Linked DNA regions of Homo sapiens. The protein of the gene in region 1 interacts with the protein of each later gene in a pairwise test. Each region holds a gene or a part of one and is shown in the gene's direction. Other genes may lie near its edges. The genes, in order: RNF10, COL4A5, BTG3 and CCDC90B.

Region 1 (3,757 bases):
AAACAAGAAAACTTCTGTAAAAACTCATGTAGGCCGGGTGCGGTGGCTCACGCCTGTAATCCCAGCACTTTGGGAGGCCGAGGCAGGTGGATCATCTGAGTTCAGGAGTTTGAGACCAGCCTGGCCAACATGGTGAAGCCCCGTCTCTACTAAAAGTACAAAAAATTAGTCCGGCGTGGTGGTGCGCACCTGTAATCCCAGCTACTCGGGGGGCTGAGGCAGGAGAATCCCTTGAAACCGGGAGGCGGAGGTTGCAGTAAGCCAAGATTGCACCATTGCACTCCAGCCCGTCTAAAAAAACAAAAACTCATGTAAAGGCCCTTTGTTAGATTTTACAAATAACACATATGTGCCTTGAGGCAGCATTCTTTTTTTTTTGTTTAATGTGTGTGTTAGAAAGCTTGACCATGTTTGCCACCGCCAGTGTCTGCTTTTCTGGCTTCTGCTGTGCGTGTTCGTTTAGCAAGGAAGGATGGGCTTTGTAGCCAAATCCATGCTTCTTCACTAGCCATAATCCACTGCTTGCATTTAGGAACAAATTAAAAGGCAGGATATGTGGAGATTAAAAGGTTAGGAAACTGGATATTGGCTGATTTTTAAAGTTGAAACTAAGCTGCCTTAGGAACGTAACAGCTAAGACCAGTGCTACTACAGCAGATACTCAGGAGCTCTGATGCAGTGACTTCACGATGAGATGGTTGCTCTAACAAAAGGGTACACTCAAGCTCCGCATAATCCCATAAAAAGATTTCTGCAGTATCTCATAAGCTGAACACTTCATATACTTGATTCTGCTGGGAATCATTGAAAGGACCTCTTGAATTACAGAGTACTGAGTTGAGGGGAAAACAAGCGTAAGGTGAAAAGATAGTTTATCTTTTGTCAAGGTGAAAAGAGCAAGAGTTTTCAGTATTCAAATATTTAAGTCACTTTTTTTCTCCCCCTTTTCTACCTCGTGGAAGAAAGCCCTTTGGTTTCTATTCTGTAAACTGTCATTAATGGCCATTTGCTTCCTAGCTACATGATTAATTTCTTTGAGATTTTGTTCCAGTGGCTGGCTTAAATTTGCCCTTCATTTGTACACAGGAAATATGTAAATTTGGCTACCAGGATTTTCTTGATCTTTCCGGCTAGAGTCGCATACCACAGTTTCTTTGCCTGGGCTAATTGCCTGAACATTTATATAACATTCCTTTTCTTGATTATATTCCTACAGCTTCATTCCAGTAGTGTTAATAGGTATTTCTGAGAACATGCAGCAGTAAATATCCTGTGAATATAGCTCAGAGGAGAGAAGGTGGGTTAGAAAGTGGGGAAAGTCATTTAGAGGGAGCAAAGAAAGAGAGGCAAGAGAGAAGGTAGGCCGTTTATGGGCAGGCAGTGGACTCTGGCCAGGAACCAGGCTCTTGTCCCATCCCCCTGGGCCGATAGAACTGCCAGGGAGGTTAAGGGAAGGTCAGGTATTATGAGGCAGTTATTTTGAGGTTGGTGGTATGAAGCACTGCCCTGGCATTCTTCCTGTTATTCTGGTACCAGAAACCAGGTTACTAGTGGTAATCTGCCTTGAAGAATGCCTCTGAGCTGTAAATGGACCTGGAGATTTTAATGGCTTTGAAAATTGAGGTGATTTGAAGCCTTCAGTAAAACCACTTAGAGAAATTAAAAGAATTTCAGGGCCCGTTGGCTGGATTCCTTGGTTTATATGGCTTCATTGGAAGTCTAGTGGGTGCTCTTGACAGGAACGCTTTGGATTTATTAATGATAGGCTTTCAAATCATAGTAAAACTGTGTGTCAGCCACTATGGTAGGCATTTTACAGAAGTTTTCTTTCTTAATCCTCATGATTCTATGAGGAAGTATGGTAGAATATTAGTCCTGTTTCACAGAAAAGAAAATAGAGGCTTAGCAGTGTTAAGAGTGATTTGTCCAAGTAAATTTTTATGAAGTCCTAGGCGGTATTTTTCAATAAGCTTTGTATAATCACACTTAGCAAGCAGATAACTTACTGGCATGTGCATCATTCCTGATACCACCTCTCTCTTCCTTTCATTCAGAATTACTAATTTCAGCTGGATTCAATTTGTTGTCAGTTGATTCTGTAGTAAGGCCATATGTTGCCCCTCTGGAGGTGCTTGTCAACTACTCTGGATGATGGGTAAGCAACTTGCTTGTGATTACAGCATGAATCAGCAGCAGAAACTTGCTGACTGGTATTCTGACCTCTAGGCCGAGCCACCTGTTAGAACTAGAGCTAGAAATGAAGATGCCAAGTAATTTAACTGTGAAAAACTTGTGGCCCTTAATTTGGTAATGGGGGGAGGCTGAGATATACCTACTGCTACTTGGTGGAGACCTTTCCATTAGGGAAATGTGGAACAACTGAGAAGCTGGGTTAAGTTTTTAAGTCATTTATTTGTCGACTCTGGAGCCTGAGTTTAGTGGTCTTGTCCATTTTGGAATGTGTCTTGACAGTAGTTCTTGGCAGTTGTTCTCAGTGGTGGCTGTGCATCAGAATCTCCTCAGGAACTTTTTTTTTTCCCTCAAGACAGTCTTGCTCTGTCACCCAGGCTGGAGTTCAGTGGCGCGATCTCAGCTCACTTTAACCTCTGCCTTCCCGGTTTAAGCAATTCTTCTGCCTCAGCCTCCTGAGTAGCTGGATTGCAGGTGTCCACCACCACACCGGCCTAATTTTTGTATTTTTAGTAGAGATGGGTTTCGCCATGTTGGCCAGGCTGGTCTCAAACTCCTGACCTCATGAGGAACTTAAAAAAAAAAAAAATAGGGGTGTGTGGGGCCCCTTCCTAGGAATTTATTATCTTTTTTTTTTTTGTAGAGATGGGGGTCTCACCATGTTGCCCAGGCTGGTCTCAAATTCCTGGCTTCAAATGATCCTCCCACCTTAGCCTCCCAAAGTGCTGGGGTTACAGGCATAAGCCACTGTGCCTGGCCTTTTTCTGATTCTTTAAGCCTAGATTGAACCCGTGGGTCCTGGGCATTCATAATTTAAAAAGTCTGTGCAAGTGATTCTGGTGTGCAGCCAGGATTGAGAACCACCACTCTGAGATTTAAAACTTCACCCATAGTTCCTTCTCCCAGGAACTTGATATTTTTTGTTTTCCAAAATCTAAAGTGGATCATCTTATCACTCCTGTTCTACCCTCGAGTTTTTCCCATGTATATCCTGGCAAGTTGTCCACAAAACATTTCAAAAATAATACTCTGAATTTTATCTCTGGGTCCCAGGCCTGATGGTACCTTCAACCTTTAGCTGCCTTTTGCCTGGGTCTAGAGATAAGAGCCAGTCTCTCACTTGACATATCTGTCTTCATACCCTTAGGTAACTGGAAGACGAGAAACGAGTTGATTTTGGCAACTAAAATCACTAATCATGATGTGGTCAGTTGTTATGTGTTTTGGAAATGAGCAGTTTACTGTCTTATCAGTGAGCATTTCTGTAAGCATTATGAAACTGTTTCCTTGCCAGTGTGGTAATAAGTGAAGAAATGAAGACAGCCTTCTTGCTGAGTGCCAGTTTACTTTCTTTTTTTTTTTTTTTTTGAGACAGAGTTTTGCTCTTGTTGCCCAGGCTGGAGTGTAGTGGTGCAGTCTCGGCCTTGCCGCAACCTCCACCTCCCGGGTTCAAGCTATTCTCCTGCCTCAGCCCCCGGAGTAGCTGGGATTACAGGCATGCGCCACCATGCCCAGCTAATTTTTTGTATTTTTAGTAGAGACGGGGTTTCTCCATGTTGGTCAGGCT
Region 2 (3,465 bases), on another chromosome or scaffold:
ATCGCAGTTCACAGTCAGACGATCCAGATTCCCCATTGTCCTCAGGGATGGGATTCTCTGTGGATTGGTTATTCCTTCATGATGGTATTTTACACTCTTCCTTGCATTTGTCATCATAGCTGACTGTCCATTCCATCTACATTTCTTCCCAATATGAGGAATCCCTGTCATTTGCATAATAAGAAGCTTAAACTTCAAACAGCTTCTATCCAAGCACTGTGTTCCCCCTCACACATTTTTTGTAACATATTTTCATAATCTGCCTATTACTTTTTTTTGACTACCCTTGGTGTGGATACTATTGTCTTACCTCTGGGCCTGTTCCTTCACTAGATTTGAATTTGGCCAAGCTCAGCACACATCTTTGGATATTCACTAAGCTATTATGGCACATGGGTATTGCGGCACATTTTTCCTTGTCTTTTATAGCATACAAGTGCAGGGGCAGAAGGCTCAGGTCAAGCCCTAGCCTCCCCTGGTTCCTGCTTGGAAGAGTTTCGTTCAGCTCCCTTCATCGAATGTCATGGGAGGGGTACCTGTAACTACTATGCCAACTCCTACAGCTTTTGGCTGGCAACTGTAGATGTGTCAGACATGTTCAGGTAAAGTGCTTATAGCTTTAATTCAGGTCCAAAGCTTCCTTCAGAGATGCTAGGGAAGAAAGAGACAATTTATGGATGGTTTATCCTCAACAAATGTTAGGAATTTATTGGATTGTGTACTTTATTCTTGCTTGTTCTTCTCATATACATGACTCAGGTCAGAAAAACAGACTTGATTATTAATATTAGGTGAGTTTGGTTTGTGATAGCTTAGTAGTAATCCTTCAATAATGAAACAGAGATAAAGAAAGGTTATGTGACCTTCCTAATAAGTCAGCAGCTGTTCAACTAGATTGAGACCACCCCAGGAATTGAAGTTACAGTCTGTCTTTTCCCTCTCAGTCCAGTGGTCTCCTTTCCCAGGATATTTTAAAGATTCTCATTTAAGGGTTTGAATGAGCAAGACATACGTAATGTATGTACCTCAGGATACTTCATTCTGTTGATTTTTTTCAGTTTAAATTTATTTTTATGTGTTGCTTTTGGGTTATCACTACTTGGTATTTTTCTTATGGTCCTTGTTATCTATCATAACATCATCAGTTGCCCAGATTTCCCTCATCCTGTGAATATTAGAAAAATGTATGAGAGAAAGAGAAAAAGATAGAAAATGAGAGGGAAACACAAATATACAAAGATAATAGTGGTGGGGAGAATCGTTACAAAATATCTATGACCACTAATGGCTCTTAAACCATACTAGTCACTGCATTAGATCATATTGCTGAAAAGTAAACCATTAAGTCACCAAGAGAGCTACTTAACACACAAAAAATGTTTAGTTATAAATTTGAACCAGTAACAGAATTGAAATACCAGAAAATGTGGATCTGATTGTCTTATTTCTTATTTCCCAGTAAACCTCAGTCAGAAACGCTGAAAGCAGGAGACTTGAGGACACGAATTAGCCGATGTCAAGTGTGCATGAAGAGGACATAACATTTTGAAGAATTCCTTTTGTGTTTTAAAATGTGATATATATATATATAAAATTCCTAGGATGCAGTGTCTCATTGTCCCCAACTTTACTACTGCTGCCGTCAATGGTGCTACTATATATGATCAAGATAACATGCTGACTAGTAACCATGAAGATTCAGATGTACCTCAGCAATGCGCCAGAGCAAAGTCTCTATTATTTTTCTACTAAAGAAATAAGGAAGTGAATTTACTTTTTGGGTCCAGAATGACTTTCTCCAAGAATTATAAGATGAAAATTATATATTTTGCCCAGTTACTAAAATGGTACATTAAAAATTCAATTAAGAGAAGAGTCACATTGAGTAAAATAAAAGACTGCAGTTTGTGGGAAGAATTATTTTTCACGGTGCTACTAATCCTGCTGTATCCCGGGTTTTTAATATAAAGGTGTTAAGCTTATTTTGCTTTGTAAGTAAAGAATGTGTATATTGTGAACAGCCTTTTAGCTCAAAATGTTGAGTCATTTACATATGACATAGCATGAATCACTCTTTACAGAAAATGTAGGAAACCCTAGAATACAGACAGCAATATTTTATATTCATGTTTATCAAAGTGAGAGGACTTATATTCCTACATCAAGTTACTACTGAGAGTAAATTTATTTTGAGTTTTATCCCGTAAGTTCTGTTTTGATTTTTTTTAAAAAACAAACCCTTTTAGTCACTTTAATCAGAATTTTAAATGTTCATGTTACATACCAAATTATAATATCTAATGGAGCAATTTGTCTTTTGCTATATTCTCCAAGATTATCTCTTAAGACCATATGCCCCCTGTTTTAATGTTTCTTACATCTTGTTTTTACTCATTTCTGACTGGACAAAGTTCTTCCAAACAATTCTGAGAAACAAAAACACACACGCAGAATTAACAATTCTTTTCCCTGTGCTTCTTATGTAAGAATCCTCCTGTGGCCTCTGCTTGTACAGAACTGGGAAACAACACTTGGTTAGTCTCTTTTAAGTTACAAAAAGCCAATTGATGTTTCTTATTCTTTTTAAATTTTAAATATTTTGTTATAAATACTCACAGGATACCTTATTTCCCTAGCTATCATCTCCTGACTTAATGTTTTTTAAACCCACCAATATAAATTTAATTAAAGATATATGTTGTAAGGATGGTCTGTTGTGTATCTCTTCAGCCTGTGTGGAAAAAACCCCTGCTCATTTACAGATAGATTACCAATCTGCACATCAACAAGTCATCTCTTCCCAGGGAATCAGTTTCTCCACGCTTTGATCACTCTGTTAGTAGATAGAAAACATAGTAATGTAAACTTTTTCCAATGAAGAAAACTACCTATTGGAAGACATTTCCAAGATAATAAATTTCTTGACAACATTGTGTTAATGGCTAAGAAAGGAAACAACTGGCTTCTATTTGGGGAAGAATTCATTAATAATGTTTAAAGCAGGTTAGTGACCTAATATTCTTAATGATTAAGAATGAACACGCATAGTTCTCTAAAATAGTCAAGGACTGGTTAAAAATAAAATATTAAAAACTTCCATAGTAAAATTTGTGTTACAGCTAAAAGATAAAACAACCAAAACAATTTTGAGTATTCTAAATCCTAATATGGACCTATGTAAAATCTAAAGCTTAGAATCTCTGGTGGTAAAACTTAGGATCCAAACAATGATAACTATCTAATTATTTTATTGATTCTGGATAGCCACCAATCGCAAATTTTAGCTCTATTTTTTCATTTAGTCCCATGCATAAAGTCAGTAATGAGTAATTGTAACTGAAAACACCATATCACAGCCCCACAGATTCTTCTACATGGTGTACACTCAAAGGTGCCCCTTCTGTTATAGTCGCAAACACTAATTCCAGAGATTTTGCTTTTTGTAGCTTTCCCTCTCATTTATAG
Region 3 (3,757 bases), on another chromosome or scaffold:
ATTATGAATACTGCTGTGGGCATTTCTGTGTTCAAGGTTCACCCATATTGTAGCTTGTATTAGTACTCATTCCTTTTCATTGCTGAATAATATTCCATACGTGTGTATAACACAGTATTTGTCCATTCTTTAGTTGGTAAACATATTGTTTTCACTTTTTAGCTATTATGAATACTGCTATGGGCATTTCTGTACAAGGTTTTGGTGTGGACATATGTTTTCATTTCTCTTGGGCAAATAGAAGTAGAATTGGCCGTGTCATATGATAACTCTGTGTTTAACCTTTCTAGGAACTGCCGAACTTTTCTGTTATAAAATAGCTCTACAGTTCTAGATTTTAAAGTAGACTTTTTTTATGTTTTAAAGTTCAAATCATTTCACAGAATTTTAAACTTAGATTATTGCAGCTAAATATTGACACACACAGTAACATCTATGTCGTATCATTTATTATAGTGCTTCTCTTTTACTGATAGGTGTGGTTTTATTTTAGCCAACAGGAGCAACGTGCTATCTTTATGGAATTTCTTCATGAAGCTAAGTGATAAGATTTTTAAGTAGTATTTTATAATAAGGCCTTTATGGCATAAAGATAAGTAGATTGTTCTCTACTTCAGATATAAGCCAAAGAAATACAAGATAAAATTGGAAGGAGGAAGGGGAGAGCTGTAAAGGAGGTATATCTTACAGAGCTTCATCTTCCCAGTTTTTATATTTTGTTTTTCTGAGAAAACATGTTTTATCTTTGCAGGGAAAAAAATGAAGAATGAAATTGCTGCCGTTGTCTTCTTTTTCACAAGGCTAGTTCGAAAACATGATAAGTTGAAAAAAGAGGCAGTTGAGAGGTTTGCTGAGAAATTGACCCTAATACTTCAAGAAAAATATAAAAATCACTGGTATCCAGAAAAACCATCGAAAGGACAGGCCTACAGGTAAAGGATTAGATTGGATTAAGCAGAGGCTGATCAACCCCTGAGGTGGGTTCAAGGCCGGATGATTGAAGGGTGTGCAGACCATGCCTACAGGTGTTTCATCTGCAAAATATAGAACTCTGGGGTGTTTGTATATTTTCTCCTTACTCATTTTAAAACAAGTATTTGTTGGCGGAGTGGTGGAGTCCCACTGCCTGGACACAGGAGGCCAATGCTATGGGGTCAAAGGAGTTAGTCTTTTGTGGTTATAGCCTGGCTCCTAACAGTGCATTTCTGTTTATCACAAATACTTAGGGATTTTCACAATTCTAGAGGACCCCTAATAACACATTAATGGGCATGGTAGGAGTTGAAAGAAGTGAATCTTGCATCTAAAAGTAAATTACATGTTATATGTTCTTTGAAAAAAAAAAAAGTATGGAAAAAGGGAACTAAGATTATCAGACACCTGATATGTCGTTAATACAAGAATAATCTCATTTATATATTTGTGGTAGAAGTCAGTGTAACTATTTTCTAGATGAATGTGACTCACCTGTGATCCACGACTAGTAAATAATGGCTCTGGGATTTGCTTTTCTGGGAGTTTTTTTTTTTTGTGGTATTGTTTTTGCTCTGTCACCCAGTCTAGAGTGCAGTGGTATAACCATAGCTCACTGCAGCCTCAAACTCCTGGGCTCAAGCAATCCTACTGCCTCAGACTCCAAAGTAGCTAGGATTATAGACATGTGCCAACACACCAGGCTAATTTAAAAACAAATTTTTTTTTGTATAGATGGGATCTTGCTGTGTTACCCAGGTGAGTTTCAAACTCCTGGCCTCACGCGATCTTCTCCCTTTGCCTCCCAGAATGTGAGGATTACAGGCGTGAGCCACCATGCCTGGCCAAGGTTCTGGGATTTGAACTCAGGTCTACATGACCCCATGTTTTCATGGGCTTTCTGCACACCACAGTGTTACCACTGTTTTGGCACTGAGAACGAAGGTAATTCTCACTTGGAGCTGTCTTTTGTACTCTGCTGTATAAGGTACATTTACAGCTTAAAGTAAAGAAGAGCAGACTCCTATAAAACATGCCCTGGCATGCTCACTGTAGTATTTATGTGACTGCTCAGGAACCTCAGTTGAGAATGTTCTGCTAAACTCAGCTGCCAAACATTGTCCCATTTTGTGGATGTGGCCACGAGAAATAAAAGTGGAACAGTGACTATAGTGATAACTACAGAAATACTCTTTTATTTGTGTATATTGATGTCCCCAAAGTTTCCTACACAAATCAACACTTTGTGCTTTGATGTCAGAAGGACTTCCTTTCTGCCACTGGGCTCTTGCAAGTACAGCACTATTCAAGGAGTCTAAAAAGGAGGTAAACATATTATTTGCTAATTTCTCATGTACTGAAAGTCAAGTGAGCTTGTGTTCTATTGACAAGAAGAGAATCAAAATAGTTTATTTTCCTTTTCATTTTTAATCCAAAGAGGTTTCCAGTAAATTGGAAAATGAATTAAAATAGAAATGTGCACGCTAACACAGGCTCAAGTCATTTTTTATCTTATCTCTTGATTATCTTAATTTTTTTTTTGCATATTTTCATTTCCAATAGAGTGAACAGCTTTCGTTAAGTTAGAACTGTTGAGGCTTTTTACTCTGATTTAACTGACATTGGATGAAGGCTTTTTGGAAGTGCCAAGCCACCATACTATTACTGAAAAAGGAGGCACTGTCAAGTAAATATTTAAAGGTCAGACAGTGTACAATTTCATTTCCATTAATTCTAAAAACTTGAGAAAAAAACTGAAACGATTAAATTGGCATGTGATCAGAAGTATCATTACTGAGTCATTTTAAAGCTGTATTTGAAGTAGAAAAAATAGTGGGTTGTTACTATTATAAAAATGAATAGAATATAAGATTAACCAAGTTAGTAGAGACTTCAGTCTGTAGAATAGGTGGAGTGTTCTTTCTCTTACAAAATGTTTGTAAGTTGAAATTGTTTTTCTGCAATATAAATAAGATACTTGTAGAGAGCAATTTGGCAATATTATCAAGATCTATAAAAATATTCATACCTTTTGAACAGTAAGTCTCCCAAGAATCTATTCTAGAAGTATAATTAGAAATGCAGACGAACATGTATGAATATGGATGTCTCTTACACTTTGTAATTGCAAAAATGGAAAGAACTAAACTGTCAACATTAAGTAAATGATAGAATATTTTTATGCAACTTTTAAAATTTTGTTTTTGAAGAGTAGTTAATGGATAAGTAGTATGTAGAGTGAAAAAAAATAGTACAAAACATGTAAGGTATGCAGATTTTGTTGAAGCATAGTCTCTGTTTAAGCATCTATATTTATATATAATTTGTAAGCTTAGAGCCTGTATCACCTTAATTGTAGATAAGAAAAACACATACATCTAAGATATATCTTTTTATCCTTAACTGCTTTTGGTCCCAGAGCACATGGGATCTTTCAAATTACCCTATACAATATTAGAATCTATAGCATAAGACCATGTTTTTAAAAGGACTAAGCAGTATTTTACATACTAGAAAATAATTTTTCTCACTTTGCCTTTGTTATATTGTTAATGGTGACGCTAAGATAGGTACGTATATACAGGGTTGAGTATTAAGGAAATAACTTGCTCTTTGGAGTCTAGTGGCCTGGATTTGAACCCTAGATCCATCACTTAGTAGCTGTGTAATGTTGGGAAGTTACTCAAACTCTCTCTGCCTCCTTTTTTCTTTATGCTGAGGAAAAAAGTATCTAACTCACAGGATGATCATGAGAATTAAGAGTTAATACATGCAAAGCATTTAG
Region 4 (3,757 bases), on another chromosome or scaffold:
AGAAGCCAAGAGAATAGCAAAGGCAGCCCATGCCTAGATTTTGCTGATTTCATTCATCCTGTCTGGATAACTTCTCTCAGATTTAATATAGTTCTACCATCATCCAAATAGCCATTCTTGATCCTTTATTCTCAAGGAGGGCCAAATGCTTCTCCTTTGTATTATTCATCATTGTGTATACATAATGCCAAGCACAGTGCCTTTCATTCAGCAAGTATCTATGGAGCATCCAGAATTGTGTAGGCATTGGGGATTCAGTAGTGAGCAAGAACAGATGTGGTCCCTGCTCTCAAGGACTGTATAGTTTAGTGCAGGGGTTGACAAACTTTCTGTAAAGAGCCTAATAAATATTTCAGGCTTTGTAGGCTGTAAGGTCAGTCACAACTATTTGCTTTGCCACTGTAGCATGAAAGTAGCCATAGATTAATCCATAAATGAATGAGCTGTGTTCTAATAAAACTATCTAGTTCTAATGAATAAAACTAGAAAAACAGGCGGTGGTAGTCTATGGGCTATAGTTGGCTGACTGCTGGTCTCTTGGGGAGACAACTGAGAGTCACATAAATGTGTAAATTATGAGAGGGTTTGCAAAAGAATCCTGTGCAGTACTATGAAAAACCATCATGAGAGAGACATAACCTAAAGGAGTCATCAGGCTTTCCAGAGGAAGAAACATTCAGACTGAGCTCTGAAGGATAAACATGAGCAGGCAAAGAAAAGGAGAGCTTTCTGAACAGGGCAGGGGCTAGGCAAAGGCCCTGAGAAGGGAAAGCACATGGCATGTTTGTGGAATTAAAATCAAAGAGCCCTTGAAAGCAGAGGACCAGAGAGAGCATAGTAGGACATGAGACGAGCTGCACCCTACAAAGATTTATTGGCTTGTTAAGGTATTTGGTCTCTATCCCAAATTTAGCAGGAAGCTGCTGGTATTCAGAGTGTTTGTTGACTAAGTCAGAGGAACTGTACTAATCTGCCTAGCTATGAGACCATAAGATCTCAGACTAATTACAGACAGTCCTCAACTTAAGATAGTTTAACTTAAAAATTTTTGACTTTACCATGGTGCAAAAACAGTGTGCATTCAGTAGAAACTGTACTTTGAATTTTGATCCTTTCCTAAGCTAACGATAATGCAGTATTCTTGCAATACTGGGCAGGGGCAGCAAGCCGCAGCTCCCAGTTAGCCATTGATCACAAGGGCAAACAACCAATACTTAGTATTGCCAGGGTTTTTGGGTTTTGTTTTTGCATCCCATCGTGTTTACAAAATGCCCATCTGGGTGTCTACATGAAATATTCAACACTTTATTATAAAGTAGGCTTTGTGTTAGATGATTTTGGCCAACTATAGGCTAACGTAAGTGTTCTCGACAAGCTTGAGGTAAGCCAGGCTAAGCTGTGATGTTCAGCAGGTTAGGTGTATTAAATGCATTTTCAGCTTAGGATATTTTCAATTTATGATGGATTTATTGGGACATAACCCTTTTATAAGCTGAGGAGCATCCATACTTAGCCCTGAGCCTCAATTTACCTCATCCATAAAATGAGAATTTTAAGGATGGGGTAATAGATGTGAAAACAGTAAAATATTATTTAAATATTATTACTGATTTTTTTTTTCTAAATCCAAATAAACTTCTAATCAGGAATATGTAACTAAGAGTACCATCATTACTCCTAATGCAGTTGTTATTGAAACTACTGAAATCTGCCCCTTTTTCCTCTAATTTTTCTTTTTCTCTCCTACCTTAGGTCTGATATTTACACACAAAGGCATAGTTCTTTACCCTTCTAGATGACATTCAAGTGAAAAAGATTACTGACCAGTGTACTAATATGTGTGTTTTTAAAAATTGCTCCACCTTTATTTACAGCTACTTGCTTTTATCTCTTCAGTTAAATAGAATTTTTTGGAGTATTTTAATGAATCTTTTATCATTTGAATTTAGAGTTTATTGTTAGATTTTTTAAAAAAAACAATATCTGTTTCCTGCCTTCTAGTCCATAAAATCAGTGAGAATATCATTTATGTCTGGTTTTGCTTATGATTTTATCCCCTATGCCTGGCACAAGTTCTAGCACTCAATCAATATTCATTAGGCTAGAAGGATATAAAGAAGGAATCACATTTGTCCTACACAGTACTAGTGGAAAAATAATGCCTGAAGTTGCAGCCTTTTAAATATCTAGATATTTTAAGTGACTTAAGATACATAAGAGAGACAGCATGGAGTGTAAGATTTGGAGTCAGAAGTACCTGAGTCTGAATCCTAATTCTGCCATTGGCTCTGTAAAGGTAACTCCTTCACCTTCCCAAAAGTTGTTTATGGGCAGGGCACCTTGTAATAAATTCATCAGCAATATATAGAAAAGGTCTTTACTGTGTCTAGGTTAAAACTTGGGGAATTTATTGAAATAGGACAAGAAGGGTTATTTCAGAAATGAGAAATTTTTCTTAGGGTTCTTATGTTGATACCAGTAAATACGTCCATGATTTCAAATCAAATTCATTGATTGAATCAACAGTAAAACTTGGTGGCCCAACTATGTGCCAAAGCACTGTTCTACGTGCTAAAGATACAGTAGTGAAAACCACAGTCAAAGCATCATGGAACTTCCATTCTGATCCAGAGATACAAACAGCAAATAAGATAATTTCATGTTGGAGCTGAGAACTACGTAGGAAATAAACTGTGGATATATAAGTGAGTGGGAGTATGGAAAGCTACTTTAAACAGGGATTAAGTGTAAAAAATTTTCATAGCTCTTTGAAAGACTATTACTGAGCACAGAGAAGAATTGAATTGTGCAGTTTCTGCTTTTCAGTAATTAGAGCTGAGGTGGTGATAACCAAAGCATTTGATGTGTGTTTTATTACAAGTTTATACTGACTCTTAACATTTCTGAATACCAAAGGAGGGAAAAGAAACATTTATTGAATGTTTGGTGTGTACAGAAGAACGTCAGAGACTTTTCAGATAAAAGAGAGGCTCAGAGGAGTCAATTAACTTGGGTGAGATGACAAAACTAGAAGAGCTGGAACTATATTATAAATGGATGGGGAAAATGCTTTGTAAGCTAAAGTAGCTTTGTAAGCTATCAGTTACTACAAAAGAAAAAAATTGTCTTCTCTTTCAGAGTTCTTCACTACCACAACCAAGGAGGGATATGATAGGCGGCCAGTGGATATAACTCCTTTAGAACAAAGGAAATTAACTTTTGATACCCATGCATTGGTTCAGGACTTGGAAACTCATGGTGAGAAACATGGATACCTCCTGAAAGAAGAAAATTAATAGCACTCATAATGCCTAGTTAAGACAATATCACTATTATGAACAATCAAAAGTAACTAAATAGATGTACCATCCATACAATGAAATATTTTATAGTCACTAAAAATGATACTGTTTGAGAAATATTTACTGATATGGGGAATGTTCAAGATATGTTAATTGAAAAAAGCATATGAAATAATATGTGCAGAATTATTCCAATTAAGTGAAAAAAAACTAGAGTTTCTAGGTTAAACTAAAGTCCGTGTGGAAGTACAAATGTTTGAGATTAAAAAATAAAAAAAAAGCACAAAAAATTACCTGATATCAAAACAGTAATTTAAATTATGTGATATTAAAGGAATAGACTAATAGAACAAAATGGTATTAAGAGACACAGACATGAATTTAATATGTGATGAAGGCATTACAAATTAGGGAAAGGAAGGACTATTTAATAAATGAGACATAATAAGTGACTA

The links.
Region 2: the proteins of RNF10 (region 1) and COL4A5 interact in a two-hybrid assay, tested with the Homo sapiens proteins (one large-scale study listed by IntAct).
Region 3: the proteins of RNF10 (region 1) and BTG3 interact in a two-hybrid assay, tested with the Homo sapiens proteins (one large-scale study listed by BioGRID and IntAct).
Region 4: the proteins of RNF10 (region 1) and CCDC90B interact in a two-hybrid assay, tested with the Homo sapiens proteins (one large-scale study listed by BioGRID and IntAct).

Annotation. Positions count from the first base shown.
Region 1 is NC_000012.12:120,537,314-120,541,070, forward strand, and holds part of RNF10 (E3 ubiquitin-protein ligase RNF10), read left to right. Parts: intron 1-3,757. UniProt on the Homo sapiens protein: E3 ubiquitin-protein ligase that catalyzes monoubiquitination of 40S ribosomal proteins RPS2/us5 and RPS3/us3 in response to ribosome stalling.
Region 2 is NC_000023.11:108,694,838-108,698,302, forward strand, and holds the end of COL4A5 (collagen alpha-5(IV) chain isoform 2 precursor), read left to right. Parts: coding exon 1-84; intron 85-429; coding exon 430-602; intron 603-1,459; coding exon 1,460-1,541; 3' UTR 1,542-2,708; downstream 2,709-3,465. UniProt on the Homo sapiens protein: Type IV collagen is the major structural component of glomerular basement membranes (GBM), forming a 'chicken-wire' meshwork together with laminins, proteoglycans and entactin/nidogen.
Region 3 is NC_000021.9:17,606,147-17,609,903, reverse strand, and holds part of BTG3 (protein BTG3), read left to right. Parts: intron 1-751; coding exon of another isoform or gene 752-759; coding exon 760-932; intron 933-3,757. UniProt on the Homo sapiens protein: Overexpression impairs serum-induced cell cycle progression from the G0/G1 to S phase.
Region 4 is NC_000011.10:83,279,642-83,283,398, reverse strand, and holds part of CCDC90B (coiled-coil domain-containing protein 90B, mitochondrial isoform 1 precursor), read left to right. Parts: intron 1-3,138; coding exon 3,139-3,258; intron 3,259-3,757.